5 separate regions of the Homo sapiens genome follow, and regions 1, 2, 3 and 4 are each linked to region 5. Evidence: fine-mapped expression QTL. A gene starts in region 5. Each other region holds a variant in brackets. All regions are shown on one strand. Distances are between the middles of the regions.

The links. PIP is the estimated chance that this variant, and not a neighbour inherited with it, causes the effect.
Region 1: its variant is the best candidate, but not a certain one, in a credible set for the expression of WDSUB1 in whole blood (TOPMed, PIP 0.50).
Region 2: its variant is the best candidate, but not a certain one, in a credible set for the expression of WDSUB1 in subcutaneous fat (GTEx, PIP 0.79).
Region 3: its variant is the best candidate, but not a certain one, in a credible set for the expression of WDSUB1 in whole blood (INTERVAL, PIP 0.65).
Region 4: its variant is the best candidate, but not a certain one, in a credible set for the expression of WDSUB1 in sun-exposed skin (GTEx, PIP 0.81).

Annotation. Positions count from the first base shown.
Region 1 is chr2:159,257,097-159,262,194 of GRCh38, reverse strand. WDSUB1 (WD repeat, sterile alpha motif and U-box domain containing 1) reads left to right here. Exons shown (of 11, transcript NM_001128212.3): 6 at 2,352-2,385; 7 at 4,210-4,250; 8 at 4,331-4,437. Among named protein-coding and RNA genes, the nearest start is that of WDSUB1, 27 kb to the left of the region's middle. RefSeq lists a silencer at 4,929-5,097. The variant C/T (reference allele first, on the strand shown) is at 3,024.
Region 2 is chr2:159,239,922-159,245,027 of GRCh38, reverse strand. The region is part of intron 10 of WDSUB1 (WD repeat, sterile alpha motif and U-box domain containing 1); the gene reads left to right. It overlaps LOC105373716 (a long non-coding RNA gene), which reads right to left. Exons shown (of 2, transcript XR_002959431.1): 2 at 3,964-5,106. Among named protein-coding and RNA genes, the nearest start is that of WDSUB1, 44 kb to the left of the region's middle. The variant T/C (reference allele first, on the strand shown) is at 2,668.
Region 3 is chr2:159,360,018-159,365,123 of GRCh38, reverse strand. The region is part of intron 27 of BAZ2B (bromodomain adjacent to zinc finger domain 2B); the gene reads left to right. Among named protein-coding and RNA genes, the nearest start is that of WDSUB1, 76 kb to the right of the region's middle. The variant G/C (reference allele first, on the strand shown) is at 2,083.
Region 4 is chr2:159,211,085-159,216,190 of GRCh38, reverse strand. All of the region lies in intron 19 of TANC1 (tetratricopeptide repeat, ankyrin repeat and coiled-coil containing 1), which reads right to left. Among named protein-coding and RNA genes, the nearest start is that of MIR6888, 27 kb to the right of the region's middle. RefSeq lists an enhancer at 4,230-4,844. The variant G/A (reference allele first, on the strand shown) is at 2,348.
Region 5 is chr2:159,283,863-159,288,968 of GRCh38, reverse strand. WDSUB1 (WD repeat, sterile alpha motif and U-box domain containing 1) reads left to right here and starts at 2,266. Exons shown (of 11, transcript NM_001128212.3): 1 at 2,266-2,386. RefSeq lists silencers at 2,137-2,306, 1,993-2,432.

The DNA.
Region 1 (5,098 bases), 27 kb after region 5:
GTGGTAGTCTAGGAAAGTGGGATTTCTTTTTAATTTTGGGGTTTTGTTTTTGATTTGTGGTACCAATGAGGATTTTATTTGAGACAGTGTAATGGGGGCCAGATGAGAGAACCATTTTCTTTGTAAGCTTAGCATGGCTGGGCTCTAGCCAGCTCCAGATGAAATTTTGGCTAATTATCCCTTTAGAAAAGTCAGGCTTAAGCAGAACTGGGCTCTAGGTCAATTAACCAAAAGCCAGTTCACCCAATGACCAGTTCATTTATTTAAAAAAAAAAAAAAAAAAAAAAAAAAAAAAAAATATATATATATATATATATATATATATATATATATATATATATATATATGAGTTTCAGTTGACCAGTTTTCCTTTCATCTCATCATATAATCTTGAAAAGTAATATTTAACATGCTCCTGACCCCCAGCCATGTAGCTATAGCTGGAGACCTGGTTTTCTTAGCTGTTATGAAAGTATTTTTGTGTGTGTGTGGATACTTTTTCAAATTGATGTCCCTGTGAGGGGACAAGCATGGGAAGTTATACTCTGCCATCTTGCTGACATCACTCTTTAGTTGTGTGTGTGTTTTAAGGATGCTCAAAATAGCAGAATTTGGCCTAAGAATTTCAGATATTTCACAAATAAGAACTTGTACCTTGAAGAACTTAGGATTAAATAAAAGTGTCTGTAAATTATGTCCATCACATACATACTCACGTAGTGTTAGCTGTCAATACTATTTCTCACTGTATTTTGGATGCAGTTTAACATTGAAAGCTATAATTCTTTTTGCATCTGGAATGCATTACAGTTATCCGTTGGTATCTGCAGGGGATTGGGTCCAGGACTGCTACCTTGGATACCAAAACCTGTGGATGCTCAAGTCCCTTATATAAAATGGTGTGATATTTGCATGTAACCTACACACATTATCCATATACTTTAAATCATCTCTAGATTACTTATAATACCTAATACAATGTAAGGGCTATGTAAATAGTTTTGCAGTATTTTTATTTGTATTATTTTTTGTTATTTTTTTCCTATTTCAATTTATTATGTTTTTCTTGAATATTTTGATTCATGGTTGAATTCACAGATAGGAAACCTGTGGATATGGAGGGCTGACAGTATATGCTTCCCAAGTTCTTGTGTTTTATTTTATATCTTTGAACTTTTAAAGTATAATTTCTATTTTGAACTTATGACAAAGATTCTGTAGTCAGTATCCATCATCAACATTGGAGGGTCTACTGAACAAGGAATTTTAAGCTAATAGGTGTGAATCCTGTGGTCAGACTGTGATCAGCTCCCTTAATAAGTACAAATATTAATGTTCTGCAGAGTGTGGTACCACTTGTATTGCAGATGTTTTTTCACCTTGTAGTGTATATTGTTCTGGCATAAAAGCCTGTTTCCAAGGGGGGTAGAAATGCCAGATAGAGGCATATTTATCCATTGTTTTAAATTACTCATTTTGTTATAATGTTGTATTTTTGTGTGTGTGATGTTCTTTTTCTTTGCTAGCATAACCCCAGATGTCTGCTTTTAATTTTTATACCATTACAAGGAATCATGTAGTCAACATCAAGTTTAGAATTATAATTTTCAAAAATGGATCATAATCAAAACATATATACATTGATTAGCATTTAAGGCACGCCTTATCAATGGTAAAGAATAGTGCTATCTGAAACAAAACCAAGTAGCAAATAATAGCTTTTCCTTGTGGTTTTTCCCATTCAGTTACTAACTTGTTATAGAGTCGTGTTTTATTTATATATCAGAGATGCTTGTTCTGTTCATGGTCATGTAGCGTAAATAGTATATACTATTGTTTTAATAAAGCTTATAATTTTCTAAATTTTATATATGGCATGTTGTTTTTTTTGAGATAGAGTCTCACTTTGCCACCCAGGCTGGAGTACAGTGGCATGATCTTGGCTCATTGTAACCTCCACCTCCCAGGTTCAGGCCATCCTCTTGCCTCAGCTTACCAAGGAGATGGGATTACAGGTGCACGCCACCATGCCCGGATAATTTTTTTCTGTATTTTTAGTAGACATGGGTTTCACCATGTTGGCCAGGCTGGTCTCAAACTCCTGACCTCATGATCCGCTCGAATCAACCTCCCAAAGTGCTGGGATTACAGGCGTGAGCCGCTGCGCCTGGCCACGTGTAGTTTTTTGAATTAAAGTTTTCATGCATATGAACAAAAGGATTGCATTCTAAATGTATGTTAATATCTGTCTTTTCTAGAAAAGTTACTAAAATTACTTAAAAATACTAATTACATAAATGCTGTACTTTGTTTTTATAGAACTTTTCACCTATAATTTATTTTCTTTTAAGGTCAGTGGATAAGTCTGTCATAGTATATGATACTGTAAGTATTTAAAAATCTTGTGGTGATCTATGAAAGTTATGTTTATTAGACTACTGAACTTCAAGTTAGGCCTGGTAGAAAAAGTATATATTTTTTCTGTTTAGTATGACTAAGAACATAAATATTTTCACAAATGCTAAAATAGTTACGCAAGTAAGATATTGGTTCTGCAACAAGCCCTTAAATATTTCAGTAATGATTTTAAGATGGATAGATTTTAAATGTGATCATAAACTATACATATTTAAAGAGCACCAGTGTTCAAAACATCACATACAATCAATTATTAAACTTTTACACCAGGCTTCCATAATAGCAAAGGATGAATGTTTACCCTAGGGTTTTTGGTGAATATGGTTGAAAGTGACCTACCATTCTTAGAGTCCTGGCTGGATTTAGGGAGAGGCATAAGAAAGGATAGGTTATCATGGACTTGGAAAATGGGAGTTTTTTACTGATCCATGTGTGGGTAAAGACCAAGTTGTGGCCGGGTGCAGTGGCTCACACCTGTAATCCCAGCATGTCAGAAGGCTGAAGCAGGCAGATGGCTTGAGTCCAGGAGTTTAAGACCAGCCTGGCCAACATGGTGAAACCTCATCTCTACCAAAAATACAAAAACTTAGCTGACCGTGGTGGCG[C/T]GTCCCTGTAGTCCCAGCTACTTGGGAGTCTGAGGCAAGAGGATGGCTTGAACCCCGGAGGTGGAGGTTGCAGTGAGCCGAGATTGTGCCACTGCACTCCAGCCTGGGCAACAGAGTGAGACCCTGTCTCAAAAATAAAGTAGTTGAAAAAAATATTGTCCAAAAGAAGAAAATGTTGAGTGGAGCCTCCTAATGCTGTAGCTATGCCAGCAAATAAATGGAGATATAAGTAATCAAAGGGTAGCGAGTTAAGCAAGTGATGTAAGCTAGTCTTCCACACAGAAGTTCGAGTCACTGAGTGTTCTGGCAGGAAATGGGAAAGAATACTCAAGCTAGGTGAGGTAAATCTTTAATATTTCTCATGAACGTTTCATGAGATTTTACATTCTCAAAAACAATTATAACACTAAATTGTCTCTGTAAAATATGTATGAGTCCCACTTAAATACACCTAAAATGTTAGATGGACACCTTAGTGTACTCTAAGGGACTAATTTATTTATTTGTTTTTTTGAGACAGACTCTTGCTCCTTTGCCCAGGCCGTAGTGCAGTGGTGCGATCTTGGCTCACTGCAACCTCTGCCTCCCGGGTTCAAGCAATTCTCCTGCCTTAGCCTCCCAAGTAGCTGGGACTACAGGCACGTGCCACCATGCCAGCTAATATTTTATATTTTTAATAGGGATGGGGTTTCACCGTGTTGGCCAGGCTGGTCTCAAACTCCTGAGCTCAAGTGATCCACCTGCCTCGGCCTCCCGACATGCTGGGATTATAGGTGTGAGCCACTGCACCCGGCCAAGGGACTAATTTCTACTCACTGGTCCTGCAATGTATACAAGTCAAATGCCATAGTCAAAAATATGAATTATTTCAGGTAATAGATGTTTAGGTTACTATTAGTAGGTTCAAACAGATGAGCAAATGCCAAGGGTCTACTGTACTAAAAATTTCTAAGGAGGTGGCTAGCAGACAATAATGCCGATAATTGACAAAAAGTGAAGTAAGTACCTGAGAATGCTGTTACAGATGCTGTTTCTGCTATTCATTGAGTAAAGTTTCAACTTATGTTAGTTACTAATAAATATTAATATATCCACTTAGTATACAACCCATTTATGTCAAATGAGTCTTCATCAGTAACTTTACTCTTACTTGAGTAAATTTAAAGCTGTTTTTATTGTTTTTCAGAATACTGAGAATATACTTCACACATTGACTCAGCACACCAGGTCTGAACTTAACCTCACCTTGTATTAATATAATTTAAAAATTAGTCAGAAGATACATAATAGTTGTTTTTATTAACTAGGTATGTCACAACTTGTGCTTTTGCACCTAATACCCTTTTACTTGCTACTGGTTCAATGGACAAAACAGTGAACATCTGGCAATTTGACCTGGAAACACTTTGCCAAGGTTAGTAAGGACATCATTTTTCACTCATTTCAACCCCACTCACCATTAGGGTCAGAAAGTTAGTAAATCGGGCTGGGCACCGCGGCTCACACCTGTAATCCCAGCACTTTGGGAGGCCAAGGTGGGTGTATCACTTGAGGTCAGAAGTTCGAGACCAGCCTGGCCAACATGGTGAAACCCTGTCTCTACTAAAAATACAAAAAAGTAGCTCAGCATGATGGTGCATGCTTATAATCCCCGCTACTCGGGAGGCTGAGGCAGGAGAATCGCTTGAACCTGGGAGGCGGAGGTTACAGTGACCTGAGATCGTGCCATTGCACTCCAGCCTGGGCGACAAGAGTGAAACTCCATCTCAAAAAAAAAAAAAAAAGTTAGTAAATCATTTGACAGGTTATTCACATTGCTTTTATCAATATAAAGTATACATCCAAATTTAATGTCATTTAAAAATAGTTTGGCCTGGCATGGTGGCTCACACTTATAATCCCAGCACTTTGGGAGGCCGAGGTGGATGGATTGCGTGAGCCCAGGAGTCTGAGATTAGCTTGGGCAACATGGTGAAACCCCATCTCTACAAAAAAGACAAAAATTAGCCACACATGGGGGTGTGCACTTGTGGCCCCAGCTACTTGGGATGCTGAGGTGGGAAGGATCACCTGAG
Region 2 (5,106 bases), 44 kb after region 5:
TTGCTTAGGTCTTCTTTTCTGTTACAGGTTTTGCACATTTTGTCAAAATTATCTTTAGGTAGCTTATTTTAAAAAAATGTTTAAATTTTTACTTTTTAGAGATGAGGTCTCATTCTGTTGCCCAGGTTGGCATGCAGTGGCACAATCTTAACTCACTGCAGTTTCGACCTCCTGGGCTCAAGCAATCCTTCTGCCTCAGCCTGCCAAGTAGCTGGAACCACAAACACCTACTACCATGCCCGGCTAACTTGTAAAAATTTTTATTTTTGTAGAGATGGGGTCTCTCTGTTGCCCAGGCTGGTCCTGAACTTCTGGCTTCAAGCCATCCTCCTGCCTTGTCCTCCCAAAGTGCTGAGATAAGACGTGTGAGCCACTGAGCCTGGCCAGTAGCTCATATTTTTATAACTGTACAATTTGAGCAAATAGAAATACAATGTTATATATTGACTTTGTGACCTTGCTACATTGAGTAGTAAAGTCATCCTTCAGTAACCAACTCCCTCAACACAAAAGTCTGTGGATGCTCTCTACACACCACACATCCTGTCCCCTTTCAAATCATCTCTAGCTTACTTATGCCCAATACAATGTAAGTGCTTTGTAAATAGCTGTTATACTGTATTGGCTTTTTTTTTTTTTTTATCAGCAGTTAGTTGAATCAGTGGATGCAGACCCCTTAGATATGTAGGGCTGTTAGTAGCTTTTTAATAGAAGCTTAATAGACTTTCTTCATACATGAGTGTGTCATGTAAGTAATTTCTTTCTTTCCAATTTGTATGAATCCTTTTTTTCTTTTCATGTTATTTTGGGTCAGAATTTCCAGTACAATGTTGAAAAGAAGTGGTGTGTAGACATTGTTACCTTCACCTGCACTTAGAGGGAAAGCATTCAACTTTCACCATTAAGTATGATAATTAGCTCCCCTTATCAAGTTAGTTCCCTTCTATCTCCAGTTTGCTGAGAATTTTTAGGCTATTGACATATTTTTTTTCCTCCTTTAGACTATAATAGGATAGATTGCTTTATTAGTTTGCTATTGGATCATAACGTGTCTCTCTCTTGGGTCTGGCTTCTTAAACATGTTTGTGAGATTCATTTATATTGTTGCACAAAGCAGTTTAATTTTCATTTCTGTATAGAAGTCCATTGTGTGCATATAATTCATTCTGTTGATGGGCATTGTTGGCTGTTATATATAGTGCTGCTATGAACCTTTCTGTACATGTTTTTTTGGTTAACATATGTATGCATTTCTGTTGGCTATATTCCTAGGAGAAGGTATACATAAATAGCATTCCAGAGTGGTTAAATCACTTTCTATGCCCACCAGCAGTGTATAGGAATTCTAATTGCTTCACAGCCTTACTTTTTCCTATTGTCTATGTCTTTGATTTTAACCTTTCTGGTACCACACATTTATTTTTAAATTTTATTATTTTTAATTGATGCTGTTATAAGAAACAATAGAGACATATACCTTGTGCACTTCCCAGCTTTCCCCACTGGTAACATTTTTCAAAATGATACTATTATATCACAACCAGGATATTGACATTGCTAGAACCCACAGATCTTAGATTTCCCCAGTTTTACTTGTACTTATCTGTGTGTGTGAAGCTCTACACAGTCTTATCCTGTCTAGAGGTTTGTGATTACCTTACTACAGTTGAGACAGAGCACTTCCAAATTATAACTGGACCCATGATCTCCCTACTGTCTTCCGACCCCAGCCCCTGGAAACCACTAATTTGTCCACCATTTCAAAAATGGTATATCAGTGGAATCATGTAGTAAAACAGCTTTCAAGTGGCTTTTTTTTCTTAGCGTAATCCCTGTAGACTTACCACTCATTTATTTTTAACCTTCCTGTGTTACTTTGTTTTATAGGTGTTCCTATGGGAAACATACAGTTGAATTTTTTTAAAAAACCCAATCCTAATCATTAATAGCAGAATTGAACCAATTTCTTTCTATTGATGATTGATACATGTGTGGAGAAATTCCTGCCAGCATATAATTCTAATTTCTCTTCTACTTTCCTTTTCCCACCTACATTTTTCTGAATATTCAGAATACATCTTTTTTCAGTTTTTCCTTATGTATATTTTTATATCTATTGGACTAATTGCCTCAGAAAAATTTTCAGGACCTGTTTGTATTTCAGCATTCTTGTACCTCATTTTTATTCATACTTTTAAATTATGAAAGTAATACGGGCTTAGTGAAAAACAGACAAGCGATTTTAAAAATGGGGGCTCTTCTGTATTCTCATGTAGCAATGATACGGTTTAGGTGTATCCTTCTAGTTATTTTTCCATCCATTTATAGTGTCTTATAACAAATGAGTTATGATGCATACTTTATTTATTTTTGAGAGGGAGTTTCGCTCTTGTTGCCCAGACTGGAGTGCAATGGCACAATCTTGGCTCACTGCAACCTCTGCCTCCTCAGTTCAAGCGATTCTCCTGCCTCAGAGTAGCTGGGATTACAGGCATGTGCCACCACACCCAGCTAATTTTTTGTATTTTTAGTAGAGATGGGGTTTCACCTTGTTAGCCAGGATGGTCTCGATCTCCCAACCTCAGGTGATCTGCCCGCCTCCCAAAATGCTGGGATTACAGGTGTGAGCCACCTCACCCAGCCTGATGCATATTTTTAAAAAGTTGC[T/C]TTTGGCCGGGTGTGGTGGCTCACGCCTGTAATCCCAGCACTTTGGGAGGCCGAGGTGGGCAGATCATGAGGTCAGGAGAGCGAGACCATCCTGGCTAACACGGTAAAACCCCGTCTCTACTAAAAATATATTTAAAAAAAAATTAGCTGGGTGTGGTGGCGTGTGCCTGTAGTCCCAGCTGCTTGGGAGGCTGAGGCAGGAGAATGGCATGAACCCAGGAGGCAGAGCTTGCAGTGAGCCGAGATCGTGCCACTGCACTCCAGCCTGGGCGACAGAGCGAGACTCCATCTCTAAATAAATAAATAAAAGTTGCTTTTGTTTATCAACAGTGTATCAAACAGTGTATCAGAGAGAACACCATTTGTCAGTGTATTTGGAAGTACATGCTTCATTCTTATCTGCAGGATAGCATTTCCTGGTATGGATGTTACCGAAATTAACTCTTACTCTGTTTATAGGCATCTTTCTCCATTTTTTTGCCAGCTTACCACAAGTGACTCTATAGAAAACATCCAGCTACTTGGGAGGCTGAGGCAGGAGAATTGCTTGAACCCGGAAGGCAGAGGTTGCAGTGAGCCGAGATCATGCCACTGCACTCTAGCCCCGGCGACAATGTGAGACTCCATCTCAAAAAAAAAAAGAAAAAAGAAAACATCCCCAGTCATGTATTTACAGGTACATTTGTATACATTCCTAATACTGATAGGCACTGCTGTACCTTTTTAGTTATGTCCAATCTTTAAAAAAATTTGGCTTGGTCATTTTTGCCAATTTAGCTGTCAAGATAATTTTTGTTTTGAGACAGAGTCTCACTGTGTCACCCAGGCTGGAATGCAGTGACATGATCTCAGTTCACTGAGACCTCTACCTCCTGGGTTTAAGCGATTCTCCTGCCTCAGCCTCCCTAGTAGCTAGGATTATGGGCACGTGCCACCATGTCTGGCTAATTTTTGTATTTTTAGTAGAGACAGGGTTTTGCCACGTTGGCCAGGCTGGTCTTGAACTCCTGACCTCAAGTGATGTGCCCAGCCAAGATAAATTTTAGAATCATCTTATGTTACAACACAAAGTGGTATTTTGGTTAGAATTACAGAAAACCTAAAAACTAAATGTTAACTGGGGCTAAAGAGTAGAAATGCCTGCCCTGCACTGGTAGGTGTTCCAGCTAGATTATTTCTTTCAGGTCTATTCTGAACATATAAAAACCTCCTAAACCTGATCTGCCCACTCTGCTTTTTCTCTAGAGCCTTCACCGTGTTGGGTTATACTTGGTTATACTCTGACTTCAGGTATGCTTTTCAGTTGCAGTTCAAGTATACTGTCTAATTCCTATTTGTCATCGTAGACTTTTCTCTTTCATGCCTTTCACTAGTTCTGGAAATGTTTCAGCCATTCTCATCCCCTGCAGCTTCTCTCTTAAGCCTTTCTAGGTGTTTTTCTTGGACCTGCCTACCAGTTGTCTTTCCTGCAGTTGTCTAACTGCTGTTTACCTGTCCAATGAGATTTTTTTAAAATTTCAGTTACTATAGTTGTCCTTTCTGGAAGTCCCGTGTACAGGGAGAGTAAGAGCATTGTCTGTGGAGCCACACTGCTTGGGTTTAAATCCCAGGTCAGTTGCTCCCTACCTGTGTGACCCTGGAAAGTTATTCAGGCCATACCTCAGTTTCCTCATTTATAAAATAGGAATGCTAACAATATCTTACATCATAAGGTTGTTGTGCAGATTAAAGAAGTTAATATAGGTAATGGTGCCCTGGAACAGTCTAATGATATGCTGTTTGGCAATAAGCACTTCAAAAGACGGTCAGTGTCATTAATGCCAATCAAAACCATGTCATACCTGTTAAGATGGCTAGAATCAAAAAGTAGGAAAATACGTGTTGGCAAGGATGTGCAGAAAATGGAACCTTCATGTGTGGTTGCTGTTGAAAACAGTCTGGAAGCTCTTCAGAAAGTTATTACAATTCCACTCCTAAGTCTATAGGCAGGAGAATTGAAAACACATAATCATACAAAAAGTTGTACAGGCATAGCAGCATTATTAGTAGCCCAAAGGTGGAAACAACCCAGATGTCCATCAACAAGTGAATGCATGAAATGTCGTATAGCCATACAAGAGAATATCGAGCCATAAAAATGCACAAATATGTAGAGGATGGACCTTGGAAAAATTATGGTAAGTGCAAGAAGCCCTATACCAAAGGCTGCATAGTGTATGATTCCCATTATATGAAATGCCCAAAACAGGCAAATCCATAGAGACAAAGTCAGTTAGAGGTGGCCACACGCTGCGGGGGCAGTGACTGCTAATGGGTATGGGATTGATGGAGTGATACACAACTCTGAAATATACCAAGAACCACAAATGGGTGCATTTTATGGTGTGAAATATATCTCAAAAAGAGCAAAAGGCAGTCACAGGTAACAGTTTCTGCAGA
Region 3 (5,106 bases), 76 kb before region 5:
ATATCTAGAAACCCCAATATATAATAATATACCTAAGTCTTGATAATATGTATGTTATCTGCAAATGCAGGAGACACAGTAACCCCAAAGGTGTATACCATTCATTAGCTAGAGGAGATCAAACACCCAAAAACTAACACATGCCATCAGAGTCTCTGCCTGAGACCAGTCATAGATCACTTGCAGTACTAGTGTCAAACAGAGTTAGGCAAACGGGGTTGTTAAATTGTGAAATGGTGTTGTGCAGTACCCCTGCCTGAGTCTGTTCTTGTATAAGAAATGCAACCTGTTTCACCTCTAGGTGTGCAACACTGTCACACAACGTCTGCCGACCTTGTAAGTATAGTGTCACACAACATCTGCCGACCTTGTAAGTACAGGTGGGTTTTGGCAACATACCTGGCCAACAGTTATAGAAGCTACTAACAGAAGTCACAAAAAATGTCTAACTAAGGGCTAGGCATGGTGGCTTATACCTGTAATCCCAGCACTTTGGGAAGCTGAGGTGGGAGGATTAGTTGAGCCCAGGAGTTCAAGACCAGCCTGGGTAACATGGTGGAACCCCATCTCTACAGAAAAATTAGCCAGGTATACTTCCAGCTACTTAGGAGTTTAAGGTGGCAGAATCAATTAAGCACAGGAGTTCGAGGCTGCAGTGAGCCACGATCGCATCACAGCACTTCAGCCTTGGGGACAGAGCAAGACCCTGTCTCGAAAAGAAAAAAAGTCCAACTGACATGTGGACTTAATTACCCCACCCTGATAAAGAAACAACTAGAATTCACGCAAAAGGTCCAAAAGCCGTTGCAGTGATTGTAATTCTAATCTTTCAGCCATAGGTAACATGGACTCCAAACCCCAGTTGAGGAACTTGTTTACCAGAGCTCTTCTGCAGTCTGGAGCTATGATACTTGGTCCTCCATTTCTAGCAAACCCGTAAATATTGGAGGCTCTTCTCTTTTCCAGCATAATCATCTGGGGTACATGGTTAGGGATCCCTTGGAAGAGAGTAAAGGGGACTGAGCCCACCTGTATTTCTCCTTGAGTTTGAAAGGGCTCAGATTAGGAACAAAGAAGCTTGGCTTCTAGAGTTGACTCAAACTCACAAAGTGGAGCTGATGACTAGGAGCATTCCCACCAGCAATGCCACTTCCAGAGTCAAGATAATGCAGAGTATCTCCCTGTCTCTATGTCCTTTAGATCTTATCAGTTTGTGTGGATGAAGCTCAATAGCCCTCGTCCTCCCCAGGGACCTTCTTCACCTAATCTTCTGGTGACTCCACCTCTCCCAATAATTATTCAAGTCTGTAAACTATTCAGTATCATGTTTCATCTCACATGTCCCTTTTCCACAGTCTCAGTGGGTCTTTTAACTTTTTGAATAGGACTACATTCCCACACTCAAGAATTAGGCCGTCTCTCAATTTCTGTCTTATCATTCCTTCTGTTTATGAGCAATATCACATTTATTGGTGTGAGGGAGATTGCCTGAGTTCAGCCTATCGGTCTACTCCTTCTTTTGTTCCTTCTTTCTTTATATTTTGGGCAGAAACCTGTGCATCTCATGAGACCCTGTCTCTTTCCATTTCCGCCTCTGCTGTGGGGCTTGTATGACCTAAAAAGAACTATTTCATGTCCAACATTGCCTCCCAGATGAAGGAATAAGTCAAAGCAGTTGTCCACTTAGGAGGACCTGCTCTGATTCGGTCATCCAACATTCTCTGCACCAAGAGCATGTTGTCAGGGATTCTCTACTCAAACCCTGGATTTTCTTATAATTACGCTAACACAGCCAGTTGTCTCAGAGTGTGTTAGAGTAACTACACTATCTGTGGATCTAGTCCATTTCACATTCAAGTGGCAGGAAAATCACCCCAATGGTAATACGTATTACCCATGCTACCAAGCATCCAGTTTAGAAGCAGGGTTACAACATCAGCCCCAGTGTTATTAGTCAACCCAGACTGCTCATTGTTTAACCAGGTCATGTGTTTCCTTTTACTCAGCTTCCCTTAACAACACTGTTGTCTCCTAACCATGCAAATTAGCAGGCCAAGCCTCTACTATCCCTACAGTAGTGGA[G/C]CTAATAAGAGTCTTGCTCTTGCTCTGTATAATGCTGGATCTCCTCCTGCTGGTGTTCTCACTCAGGCTCCTGTACACCGTGCCTCACAGTAACTGGCTTCACATACAGCAGGACCAGTTGCCTCATATTACAGATAAACAGTGGGAATTTGCCCCACCTTCCCTTCTAGAGAGACTACCACACCCTTTCTAGTGCACCCTACCAATTTGTACTCCTGAAAATCTCTAAGCTGATAAGGAGAAGAGATAGAACTTAATTTCAAGCCACTGGAAACCCTCTTTACCACTTGAGGGCTTCTGCCATTCTCAGGCGTAGCTACTGAGACCATCCTAACTGCCAAGTGAATTACCACTGTCCCCAGGAGAAATTCTTTGACCCATGGGTTCTCCTCTTTCAGAAAGCCATGACATCGGGACTTTGTTGGGCACCAACTGTAGTACAAGATGGTTACACAAACCACTAACACACATGGTGCTAATAGCAGCAAAGTTTGTTAGTGAGAGTAACCTACAAGCAAAGAAGTAACCGTACACAGGATTCCCAGCCTCCATAATGATTCCACAGGACTTGGACATGCAGCAAGAGCACTCCAAGAGACGAAACACTGTACCCCACACCTTGCCCTGTATGCATTAGTGTGAGAAAGAGTAGAAAGCACTTAATTTCTGAGTAATGATAAACATTATCAAGGGACCTTTGGGTTTAGAAACAGTGCTAGGACATATGCATATCAAGGGTCAAAGTCTACATAGGGAGGACGCTGAGAACAGTGTTGACCTCAGCTGAAGGCCTTCTGACCTGCTGCTGCCTCTCAGGGAAGTGGGAAAGAAGAAAGCCCCTATGGCCTTCCAGCCAAAACCAAGGATTTTTTTTTCCAGTCCAGTTCACTGTTTTTTTTTAATTTGTTTGTTTTTTGTTTTGTTTTCTTTTGTTTCATTGTACTTTAAGTTCTGAGATACAAGTGTAGAACATACAGGTTTGTTACATAGGTATTCACTTGCCATGGTGGTTTGCTGCACCCATCAACCCGTCATCTACATTAGGTATTTCTCCTAATGCTATCCCTCCCCCAGACCCTCACCCCCCCGACAGGCCCCAGTGTGTGTTGTTCCCCTCCCTATGTCCATGTGTTCTCATCGTTCAACGCCCACTTATGAGTGAGAACTTGTGGTGTTTGGTTTTCTGTTCCTGTGTTAGTTTGCTAAGAATGATGGTTTCCAGCTTCATCCATGTCCCTGCAAAGGACATGAACTCATCCTTTTTTATGGCTGCATAGTATTCCATGGTGTATATGTGCCACATTTTCTTTATCTAGTCTATCATTTATGGGCATTTGAGTTGGTTCCAAGTCTTTGCTATTGTGAACAGTGCTGCAATAAACATACATGTGCATGTGTCTTTATAGTAGAATGATATATAATCCTTTGGATATATACCCAGTAATGGGATTGATTGCTGGGTCAAATTGTATTTCTGGTTGTAGATCCTTGAGGAATCACCACACTGTCTTCCACAATGGTTGAACTAATGTACACTACCACCAACAGTGTAAAAGCGTTCCTATTTCTCCACAGCCTCGCCAGCATCTGTTGTTTCCTGACTTTTTAATGATTGCCATTCTAACTGGCATGAGATGGTATCTCATTGTGGTTTTGATTTGCATTTCTCTAATGACCCATGATGATGAGCTTTTTTTCATATGTTTGTTGGCTGCATCAATGTCTTCTTTTGAGAAGTGTCTATTCATATCCTTCACCCACTTTTTGATGGGGTTGTTTATATTTTCTTGTAAATTTGTTTAAGTTCTTTGTAGATTCTGGATACTAGCGCTTTGTCAGATGGCTAGATTGCAAAAATCTTCTCCCATTCTGTAAGCTGCCTGTTCACTCTGATGATAGTTTCTTTTGCTGTGCAGAAGTTCTTTAGTTTAATTAGATCCCATTTGTCAATTTTGGCTTTTGTTGCCATTGCTTTTAGTGTTTTAGTTACCAAGTCCTTGCCCATGCCTATGTCCTGAATGGTATTGCCTAGGTTTTGTTCTAGGGTTTTTATGGTTTTAGGTCTGACGTTTAAGTCTTCAATCCATCTTGAGTTAATTTTCGTATAAGGTGTAAGGAAGGGGTCCAGTTTCAGTTTTCTGCATATGACTAGCCAGTTTTCCCAACACCATTTATTAAACAGGGAATCCTTTCCCCATTGCTTGTTTTTCTCAGGTTTGTCAAAGATCACATGGTTGTAGATGTGTGGCATTATTTCTGAGGCCTCTGTTCTGTTCCACTGTTCTATATATCTGTTTTGGTACCAGTACCATACTGTTTTAGTTACTGTAGCCTTGTAGCATAGTTTGAAGTCAGGTAGTGTGATGCCTCCAGCTTTGTTCTTTCTGCTTAGGGTTGTCTTGGCTATATGGGACCTTTTTTTGGTTCCATATGAAATTTAAAGTAGTTTTTTTCTAATTCTGTGAAGAAAGTGGTAGCTTGATGGGGACAGCATTGAATCTATAAATTACTTTGGGCAATATGGCCATTTTCACAATATTGATTCTTCTATCCATGAGCATGGAATGTTTTTCATTTGTTTGTGTCCTCTCTTATTTCCTTGAGCAGTGGTTTATAGTTCTCCTTGAAGAGGTCCTTCACATCCCTTGTAAGTTGGATTCCTAGGTATTTTATTTTCTTTGTAGCAATTGTGAATGGGAGTTCACTCATGATTTGGCTCTCTGTTTGTCTATTATTGGTGGATAGGAATGCTTGTGATTTTTGCACATTGATTTTGTATCCTGAGACTGCTGAAATAACTTACCAGCTTAAGGAGATTTTGGGCTGAGACGATGGGATTTTCTAAATATACAATCATGTCATCTGCAAACAGAGACAATTTGACTTCCTCTCTTCCTATTTGAATGACCTTTATTTCATTCTTTTACCTGATTGCCCCGGCCAGAACTTCCAATACTATGTTGAATAGGATTGGTAAGAAAGGGCATCCTTGTCTTGTGCCAGTATTCAAAGGGAATGCTTCCA
Region 4 (5,106 bases), 73 kb after region 5:
CTATGAAGAGCACCAAGCCCCATTAGTAACCAGGCTCATTAACGAGAGATGGATGCGGAACAACAGGAAAGCTTGCACCCTGCTAGCAGAAAGGTGCATGGTGGCTGCTCTGGAAAACAGGCTGACGCTACGAGTAAGTTGAAGACAGGTGTATCTCCCCACCCAGCAACCCACTTGCAGAGATGCACCCTGCAGGCACTCTCAAGGTGTACCAGAAACACAAGCAAAAATGCTCACCGCACCCCGGGCTGCAAACAATCCAAACAACCATCATCATCATCATTAGCAAGCTTCAAGAAAGTGGCATAGTCAATCAGCAGAACACTACATGTCTACAAGAATAAACACCATGTGGCTAAACACGACTGACCAAGTCAGTCTCACAAACTTAACAAGGATTGAAAGAAACCAAACCCAAAAGAAAACACACAGAGGATTTTGTTCATACATAGTTCAAAAGCAGAGTGCCACGACAGCCATCTCGGGAGAGGGTCATCTGTGGGCTTCCGATTAGCAAGGGCGGGACCTGGTTTGTCTCCTGCGCACCTTCTGAGCTCGGGTCTCAGAGCTAAGCCCCGGGAGCCAAGGGCTCAGTGATGCTGGTGTCTGCACACACCCCTTGGTCTGCCTGTCTTCTTTGACACCCCTCAGAGCAGCTAACAGATGCCTGCTTCCTCTGGTGCCTACAATAATGCCCAGGGAAGCTGGGAGTCTGTTGCTGATTTGTGACCTCCTCTGGTCACACCAGTCAGCATGGCCATGGTTTAACCTCCAGGAGCCACATAAACAAAAGGCGGCAAACCTGTTATCTCCCTGCAAGAAACTAGCTCTCCTACTGAACAGTCTCTACCGACTGTCCTTAGGGCCATGGTGCAGTGTGGCTGGCAACCTCACCTCTTCACATGTCACAGAGAGGTAGCCACATCTCTCCCGTGGATCACCTGAGCTCTGCGTTCTATCTGGGGCCTCGTCACCGGAAAGTGAGGGAGTAAGCGTGGGCAGCAGGCAGTCCTGGTCTTGTGGACCTAAGAATGTAAGGGTTAGGTCCAGGATGACCATGGGGAAAGCATCCCCTTCTCCATCCTTCCAGAACGGTAAGGCAGCTCTCACTTCGCTTCTGGTCCTCAGTCAGTGTGGACCTCAGCAGTGAGGGGAACTTCTTCAGTGGCCTCATCACAGACCAGCCCCTCATAAGAGTTTACATGGCAGCCCAGGGAGCTCAGGGCCAGTCTGTAGGCCTGGCTGATTCCGAATGTTCCACGCCCTATTCCTCACCACCCAGATGATGGCCTGTTTCTTTTCAGAAAGGAGGCCACCACATTTCTCCAGAAAAATGCATTTAAAGGGCTCTGTCCTGTTGGATGTCCTCAAGCCTCTTAATCTATGTTTGCAGCAGACAGCACTAAAGCGGTGGTGGACCAGAGGAGGTAACAAGTCAGGAGCTGATTCCCAGCTCCCCAGGCCTTATCTGAGCACCAGAGGGAGCAGGCATCTGCCAGCTGTCAAGATGCTCTGACACCTGATGCTACAATATTTTTCCAAGAGGCGTAACAACTTCAGTTCTCTGTGGTAGAACAGTCCTTCACATGCACTGGGACATAGTCCCTTGCAGCTCTCCAAGGAGGTAGCTGGTAAGCCGAGCCAAGGTCCTCATGAGAAGTCAGTGCTGGTACCAACATGTGTGTTCAGTGAGTCACCCTAGTGGAGGGCACAGGGGGCCTGTGCACCATGGTTCTCAGCAGGTGAGAGACTGCTCAGCTCTGGAGTCCCAAGGTCCAGGATGTAACACAAGACAAGACACCTGAAGATATGATCTAGTCCCAGTTGCTATGTATGACCTTGGCAAATCCTCAAGGTCTGTGAGCTTCAGTTTTCCCCTGCAGAAAGCTAAAGAGTTGAGCCTGACCAGAGTTATGAAGAGGCCAAAGTTTCCGCAAATGCTTAGTCCAAATTTCATTTTTTAAATGCAGCTTATTTAAAAATTTGTAACAAACACAATACCCACCCCCCACCCAACCACCACAACATTTGCTGTTACTAAATTCCCCCTTTTTTTTTTTTTTTTTGAGACAGGATCTTGCTCTGTTGCCCAGGCTGGAGTGCAGTGGTGCAATCTTGGCTCACTGTAACCTCCACCTCCCAGGTTCAGGGATTCTCCTGCCTCAGCCTCCCAAGTAGCTGGGATTACAGGCACGAGCCCCCAAGCCCGGCTGATTTTTATATTTTTAGTAGAGATGGGGTTTCACCATGTTGGCCAGGCTGGTCTCGAACTCCTGACCTCAGGTGATCTGCCCACCTTAGCCTCCCAAAGTGCTGGGATTACAGGTGCGAGCCACTGTGCCCGGCC[G/A]CTGTTACTAAATTCTAATACCTTGGGGCCCAGCGCATTACCATGGGTGCCCAGAATAACTTATCACTGGGCAGTCTCATAATAGTGCTTTTCCTGTCATCTTTCTAGTCAGATAATTTCTTAGAACTACAGGAAGAGCCGTTCTTAACAAATATTGCCATCTGCATCACTGATCTGGATGACGAAGTGGATTCTTTCAAGACAGTGCAACCAGAACAAAATACTGAAGGGCAGGGATGCTACAGCTGATCTGGACTGCAGGTACCATTCATATTTGTGTTATGCAAACAGGCCCATTGCCCTTACTGAGCAGACATTTAAAGTTCATCTCAGCGTGTCGGTATGTAAAACTGACATAAATACCATTAGCAGAATGGTATTTATGTCAGTTTTACATACCGAGGCACTGAGACAGAGGTGGGGGGGTTCCCATACCTAAAATGTTTGGAAACCAGGGTCCAATGTGATCCTATCTATACTCTGAGAATCTACACAAACCAGTTCTGGTCCCTGCTGTCCCAGGAATTCTCGCTGTAGTCTCTTCCTGCCACGATGATAACGTTAATGATTCCTACTAACATAAGGCTTGGGGTACTTTTATATTGTGAGAGACCAGAATATGCCACCCCAAAATATGCCTTTTCGCATAAAGATTTTGAGTTGATTATTTTGAGAGACTGCAGACACAGGAGATATCCCAAAAACAGATAAGTTATCCTCTTGTAAGACAAAATTCATGGGTGTCTTCCTTTCTATTACCAAGAAGAGAAGGATGACTACATCACTAGAGATTTCTATCAGTGGAGAATCTGGCTCTCAAACCTTACCTTTGTTAACTGCTTTTCTTGGGTACCTCCCCATAACTGGCCTTCCCCAAACCATTTATCTTTGTTTCAGGGAAATTTTTTTTTTTTTTTTTTTTTTGAGACGGTGTCTCGCCCTGTCACCCAGGCTGGAGTGCAGTAGCACAATCTCGGCTCACTGCAACCTCCGCCTCTTGGGTTCACGCCATTTTCCTGCCTCAGCCTCCTGGGTAGCTAGGATTACAGCATGTGCCACCACGCCTGGCTAATTTTTGTATTTTTAGTAGAGACAGGGTTTCACCATGTTGGCCAGGATGGTCTCCAACTCTTGACCTCGTGGATCTGCCTGCCTTGGCCTTCCAAAGTGCTGGGATTACAGGCGTGAACCACCATGCCCAGCCGGGATGATGGTTTTTAAGCCTAAAATCTAAGCCACCTCTTGGACACTGACTCATTTCTCTGGGTATCTCCCATGGATACAACACAAGATATACCTACTATTCAACTTCTGTTTGTGTTAATCTGTCTTTCGTTGCTGCAGTCTGTCCCAAGAACTGTGAAGGGTAGGGATGAAGTGATTTCTTCCTCTCCTACAATATACATTTTCTGGATTGATTTGATCGTGACCCTGAACACGCATGATTCTTACGCTAGAAGATCTGGGTATTGAACCACTACCTGGATCTGCTGCTGCTCTGCCATTTTCCTCTAGGCAAGGAACAACTCCCTCTTCCTCCTCTCCCTGGTTGACCAGAAGAAGGAATGAATCAAAACAAAGACGCATGGGCTCCACGCAGAGGCAGGGCCTTTGCATGATGCCATGCAAAGGAATAAACACAGGACTCTTCCATTTGATGAGATCTGAAGCAGCCAATCCACCACAGCATTCTGCTCTTTTATTTGGTAAACAAGCTTCATCTACATTATAAACGGGGCCTTTAAATCAGGATTTCTGTTAAAGCTGCTACTGAATTTTTGCAACAGCAGCACATCAGAAATGACAGTCCAGCACTAAAAATAGGGACCTCTGTTTCACAGGGGCATCAGAGAAACCACAAGTTGGAGCAACTGACAAGGGGCGAGTGCGCCACCCCGGGCATGGCAACTGGGTTGGACCCTGTCCTCCTTTTCCTTCACAACCCTTGCTATGTATTTGGTGACTCCCTCTTGAGGCAACTAAAAACCTGTAAGCACAGGCAGACTATGCTCAGGCTTAAAACAGATCACGTTCTACACACAAATTCCTGACAAGGCTCTCGTTTACAAATGATGCAGACAGACAACAAGATCTGTGTTTTCCTTTTTCTAAGCAGATTGAGTATTCTGGGGCCATCACGGCGAACTCCTGAGGCTCTGCCATTTTCAGGGGATCTCAAGTTTTAGCAGCCACAGGGACTTACGAACACAAGAGAGACTGAAGAATAGCCACCCACATGCTTAAGCAAACAGAACCATGGCTAAATTATGCTCAGGAATTCCAGCTATTCTGCTGCAAAGGCCGACCTCTGGTGCTGCCCACCAGGCTCCAGTGAGGGTTAATGCACCCCACCTGACCCGAAGGAAAAGAGGGCAGGGGAGGGCAGGAGAAGAGAATGCCTTGCTATGGGCAGTACCTTGCCTTCTGGCCAATGAAATACAAAGATGGAGAAAAAAAGACTTGGTATGAAATGGGAGCTCAAAAATCAACGTGAACAGATGGCACTTTTTAGGACTCAAATTGGACACAATTTCTTCTAGTTGTAAAATCCTTAACAAGATGGCATTTGTGAATTAGATTCCCATGAAAGCACATACCTCAGCAACACTGTCCTGTCTTGAGAAGGCAAGTAGGTTTGTAATGGCAGACGTTCATTTTAAGAACAACCTGACTGGCCAGGTGCAGTGGCTCATGCCTGTAATCCCAGCACTTTGGGAGGCTGTGGCGGGCAAGTCACCTGAGGTCAGGAGTTCAAGACC
Region 5 (5,106 bases):
ATAGAGGCTGAGGCGGGTGGATAACTTGAGGTCAGGAGTTCGAGACCAGCCTGGCCAACATGGTGAAACCCTGTTTCTACTAAAAATACATAAAGTCAGCCGGGCGCGGTGGCGGGCGCCTGTAATCCCAGCTACTTGGGAGTCTGAGGCACGAGAATCACTTGAACCTGGGAGGTAGAGGTTGCAATGAGCCAAGATCCTGCCACTGCATTCCAGCCTGGGCGACAGAGCAAGACTCCATCTCACAAACAAACAAAAAAACCCACACACAAATTAGTGTAGATAAAAAAGGTATCCCTCAAGTTTGACAAGAAAGTGGAGAGACAAACACAACTACATATTGCTGAGAGTGTAAACTGTACAACCTCTCTGAAGAGCAGTATGGTAATACTTATTAAAACTGTCTACACCTTTATGCCCAGTGATTCCATTTCCTTTTTTTTCTTTTGTGAGACAAAGTCTCACTCTATCCCCCAGACTGGAAGTGGAATGGGGAGATCTCTGCCCACTGCAACCTCAGCCTCCTGGGTTCAAGAGATTCTCCTGTCTCAGCCTCCTGAGTAGCTGGGATTACAGGTGCGTGCCACCATGCCTGGCTAATTTTTTTCTATTTTTAGTAGAGATGGGGTTTCACCACGTTGGCCAGGCTGGTCTTGAACTCCTGACCTCAGGTGATCCACCCAGCTTGGCCTCCCAAAGTGCTGGGATTACAGGCGTGAGCCACCGCACCTGGCCTCCATTTCAATTTTTATCCTAAGTACATATTCATAAATATGGAAAAAGATTTATGTACATAACGTGGTAATATATTGAGGCTAAAAGAAAAAGATTTAGGTACAAAGATATTTAATCCAGCATTATCTACACTAAGATCAAAATTGTTGAAACCATCCAGCAACAGGGAAAATGTTAAATAATTTATGGTATGTTTATATGTAGACCATTATGTAGAAAAAAAAGCTAATGAAATTTTAGACATGGGAACAGCTCATGACACAAGTTTGTTTAAAAAGGCAGTTTCCAGGACTTTTTGTAAAATTAGTTTTTCTGAAAGACTGAGAGAAAATGTTATCTCTGAGTGGGTGATCTCTGAGGGGTGTAATTATTGACTATTTATTTTCCTGTTATATATTCTGTGTTTCCTACAGAGAGCTCTATTATTTATACAATCAAAAACTTGTTTTTAGAAAAATACTGTTTTGGCAATACTTTGGAATGGAATTTGGTGTTCAAAGTCTCAATCATGATGCACTCCGCTAATTTTAAAAAATTAACAAGAACTTCACAAAATCCTAATTTTTAATCTTCCCTTTCCCCTTAATCTTTTTCATTGCAAATAGTTTCCCACGGTCTCAATTTCATCTTTAAATGTGAGCATTTTAGGTCATTACTCTTCAAATGTAACTTCGGTCTCCACAGGCTGATATATTTTTAATGTTTCCTCATGGATTAAAAATAAAAGCTCTCTGTATCTTTGATTTTCATCTGAACATAGTCCCACACTATGTTGTGCATTTAGTTAACAAGTGGTAATTTGCTCAGGAACTTTTTTTTTTCTGGATAATTTTTATCTCAAAAAGCACTGGCAGGGCCACTTTGTAGTCAATGACACGTGGAAACCAGTCTACCGTGAGCCAGTGGGACGCACTGGGAAAGGCTGAAGAAAAGGCGCCCGGGGTTCCAGTGAGCTCAGGATACCCACCCAACGGCAGGGCTGGGGCCCGGGGCAGGCAGCCTGCCCGGGAGAGACCCCTAGGGGAACCCGAATGAGGAGGCGAGGGCAGAAGACGCCAAGTCACGGACCGCCCAGGGTGGCCGAAATAGAGAAGGCCAATCTGGGAGACCGGCCTCGGAGTACACAGTGCAGGGTGGAGAACTGGAGAAAGAGGTAAAAACTTTCAGCAGGGATGGCCGAACATTCCATGCAACGCCCCTTTAAAACGACGTTTCAGGCGATCACTAGGCCTTGCGACCGCAGCTTTAGCAAAAACAGAAAGATTTGCGACGGAAGTCCCTTTCCAAGCCTGAAATCGCCTTGACCCTAGGAGCCAGAAGCTGGGGAGGAACTCGCAGTCCGGGCGGAAGAGCGCGCATGCGCCGCCTCAGGGGCCGGTCCCGGGGGCGGGGCCTGTTCCCTCCGCCCTGGGTCTCCACAGGCTTTCGCGGGGCGGGGCCTACTCCCTCCGCTCTGGGTCACAGCGGGCGTTCGGGGGGCGGGGCCTGTTCCCTCCGCTCTGGGTCCCCGCGGGCGTTCGGGGGCGGGGCCTGTTCCCTCTGCTCTGGGTCTCCGCCGGCGCCCGCCCCGCCAGCCTCACCTGCGCGGCACGTGACCCGCACCGCCCGTGGGCACCTTGAAGGCGGATCCCGCGCGCCCCCGCTCCTGCAGGTGAGAGCGGCCGCGCCCACGGGCCGGCTCAGCGGCGGTGGCGGCAGGTGGGGAAGCGCGGCTGGGCCTGCTCGCGCGGGGCGTCTGAGCCCTCCATTTCCCGGTTCTAACCGCGCAGCAGGGCCCAACCGGGACCTTGAGTGCGGCGAGGCGTGGTTCGTGCACCCTTGGCCCGGGGCTAGGGCGGGCGTGTCGGCGTCGGGTGGAAGGAAGCCCCTTGCGGGTGAGCTCCCTGCCTCCCAGGCCTCCCTCTTGCCTGGGGTCGCTCAGTCCACAGAGGCCCGGCCGCTCATAGAGGGGGGCACATTCCTGGTCTTTCGTGCATGGGGGGTGTAAGTGGCGGACTTTATTTTGGGAGCGCTGGACACCTTTCGGGTTTGCTTTGAATGAGATGGGATTCATGTGTTTACGCTGGCCAACTGACCTGGTGTGCCCGGGAATTTACTGTTCGCGTGACAGCCGAGGCCCGAGGGAACGCCCACACCGCCCCCCCTACCCCAAGGCAGGTCCTGGGTAGGCCTGAGAGCTTTTTCAAAACAAACTGTTCAGCTGACGGTGGCCTCGGTACTTCCCACTGAATGCCCTGGAACTTGCAAAGGGAGCTGAGTGCGGCAGAGGGCTGGGAGCCGGAGTTTGTTTGGAAAATCACCTGTGCGCACTTGCACAGCTGGGATTTGCGAGCTCTCCAGAAAGCACCACCTGGTCTTGATTGTTTTCAAGACAGCAGTACAGGGATAGTCTACCAGAAATTTTCGTGTTTGGTTTTTAGGCTTTATTGGAGTTTATGTTCGAAGAAAAGAAGCTGAACTTATCCTAAAAGGATAAGATGAAGATAGGGAAAGGCATGCTCCTTATGCCTTAATATTTGTTTGATTGATTGATGGGGTCCTGCTCTGTTGCCCAGGCTAGAGTGCAGTGGTGCAATCACAGCTCACCGCCGGCGTCACCTCCGGGGCTCAAGTGATGCTCCCGCCTCAGCTTCTCGAGTAGCTGGGACTACAGGTGCTCGCCACCACACCCAGCTAATTATTTTTATTTTTAGAGAGATGGGGTCTTGCCTTGTTGCCCAGACTGGTCTTAAACTCTTGGGCTCAAGTGTTCCACCCATCTCGGCCTCCCAAAATGCTGGGACTACAGGTGTGCACCATCGCGCCCAGACTTTTTTTTTCTTTGGTAGAGGTGTTTCCGTAAATAAGACTAGGACAAAGGATTATCAATTTTACAAGTCAAGGTTATACCTGCCCCTTTCAGAGCTGATTCTGCCTCACTTGACACCAGTTTTCCACCGTCAGTTATGTTTCTGTGTGTGTATATATATTTAGTCTTGGTAGATTTTCTAATTTCATATTACATATGGATTATTTAAAGGCTGGAACTCAGTTGGGCTCGAACAAAATAAATATTCAACTTATATTTATTTAAGTACATTAGGTGCCTGACAGTTTTACATGGTGTGGATACAGAAATGAGCAAGATGGCAAAGTACCTACTCCTTTGGGATTTACATCCTAGTCGGAGGAGACAATTTAACAAATATCCGATGCTGGTGGTAATTGCTGAGAATATAGAGTGATGTGCTAGCCTAGGGAGTGGCTACTTTAAATAGGGAAACCGTCTCTGAGGAGAGACACTGAAATTGAGATCTAAATGACAAATAGGATCCCAAGAGCAGAGGCAAGAACATTTCAGCTTGAGAAAACCGCTTTATGGAGACGGAAGACTGTTAGGCCAAGGAGGCTGGAAAGAAGAGAGGGACAGTGGCCAGAGTTGAGATCTGAGAAGTGGGCAGGCGGGAATTATATAGGATTTTGATTACATAAGACTGTATAGGATTTTGTTTGCCATGATGAGTTTGATTTTATTCTAAATTTGTAAATTTGTTCTTGAGCGTGGTCTGGCTAAGTTCATTTTTTGACACTTTCTTAGGTTTTCTTTTCTTGGTTTCCTTGATTCATTCAGAGGTGGTTCCTCACCTCAAGTCTTTTGTATAATTTTACTATTTATCAGACAGGATGACAAACCATGATAGGACAGCTTTCAACATGGTCACTTATTAATAAATTTTCAATGAGACTTTTGTTGTTTTTTTTTAAGAGCAAATCCTACAGTTTGATTTTAAAGGCGGAGCAGATAGCCTTGGCTCCATCCTGTGAAGGGAACAGCTAAGATAGTTTATTAGAATAGAAAATACTTTTTGAGTTGAGATGAGCAGATCTGGAGTGAGGTATTTTTGAGAACTCCTTATGAGAAAGGCTTCAAAGGTGAAATAAACACCTTAGGTTTTGAAAGCTCAACATCAAATCAGTTTGAAGTTATTTGACAGTTTGAAGGTTCTTTTTGAGGAGTTGTGGAAATTTATTGGTATGACAACGGTGGTTGTGAGAATCAGAGGTTATAGTCTTATAGATTTTTTTTTCTCCAAATTGTTCTTATCCCAGGTAACAGGTTGTCCTTTAAAACAGAGCTCCCTTGGCCGGGTACGGTGGCTCACGCTGGTTATCCCAGCACTTTGGGAGGCTGAGGTGGGCGGATCACTTGAGGCCAGGAGTTCAAGACCTGGCCAACATGGGGAAACCCGGTCTCTACTAAAAATACAAAAAATTAGCCGGGCGTGGTGGGACATGCCTGTAATCCCAGCTACTTGGGAGGCTGAGGTGGGAGAATCACTTGAACCCGCGAGGCGGGAGTTGCAGTGACCTGAGAACATGCCACTGCACTCA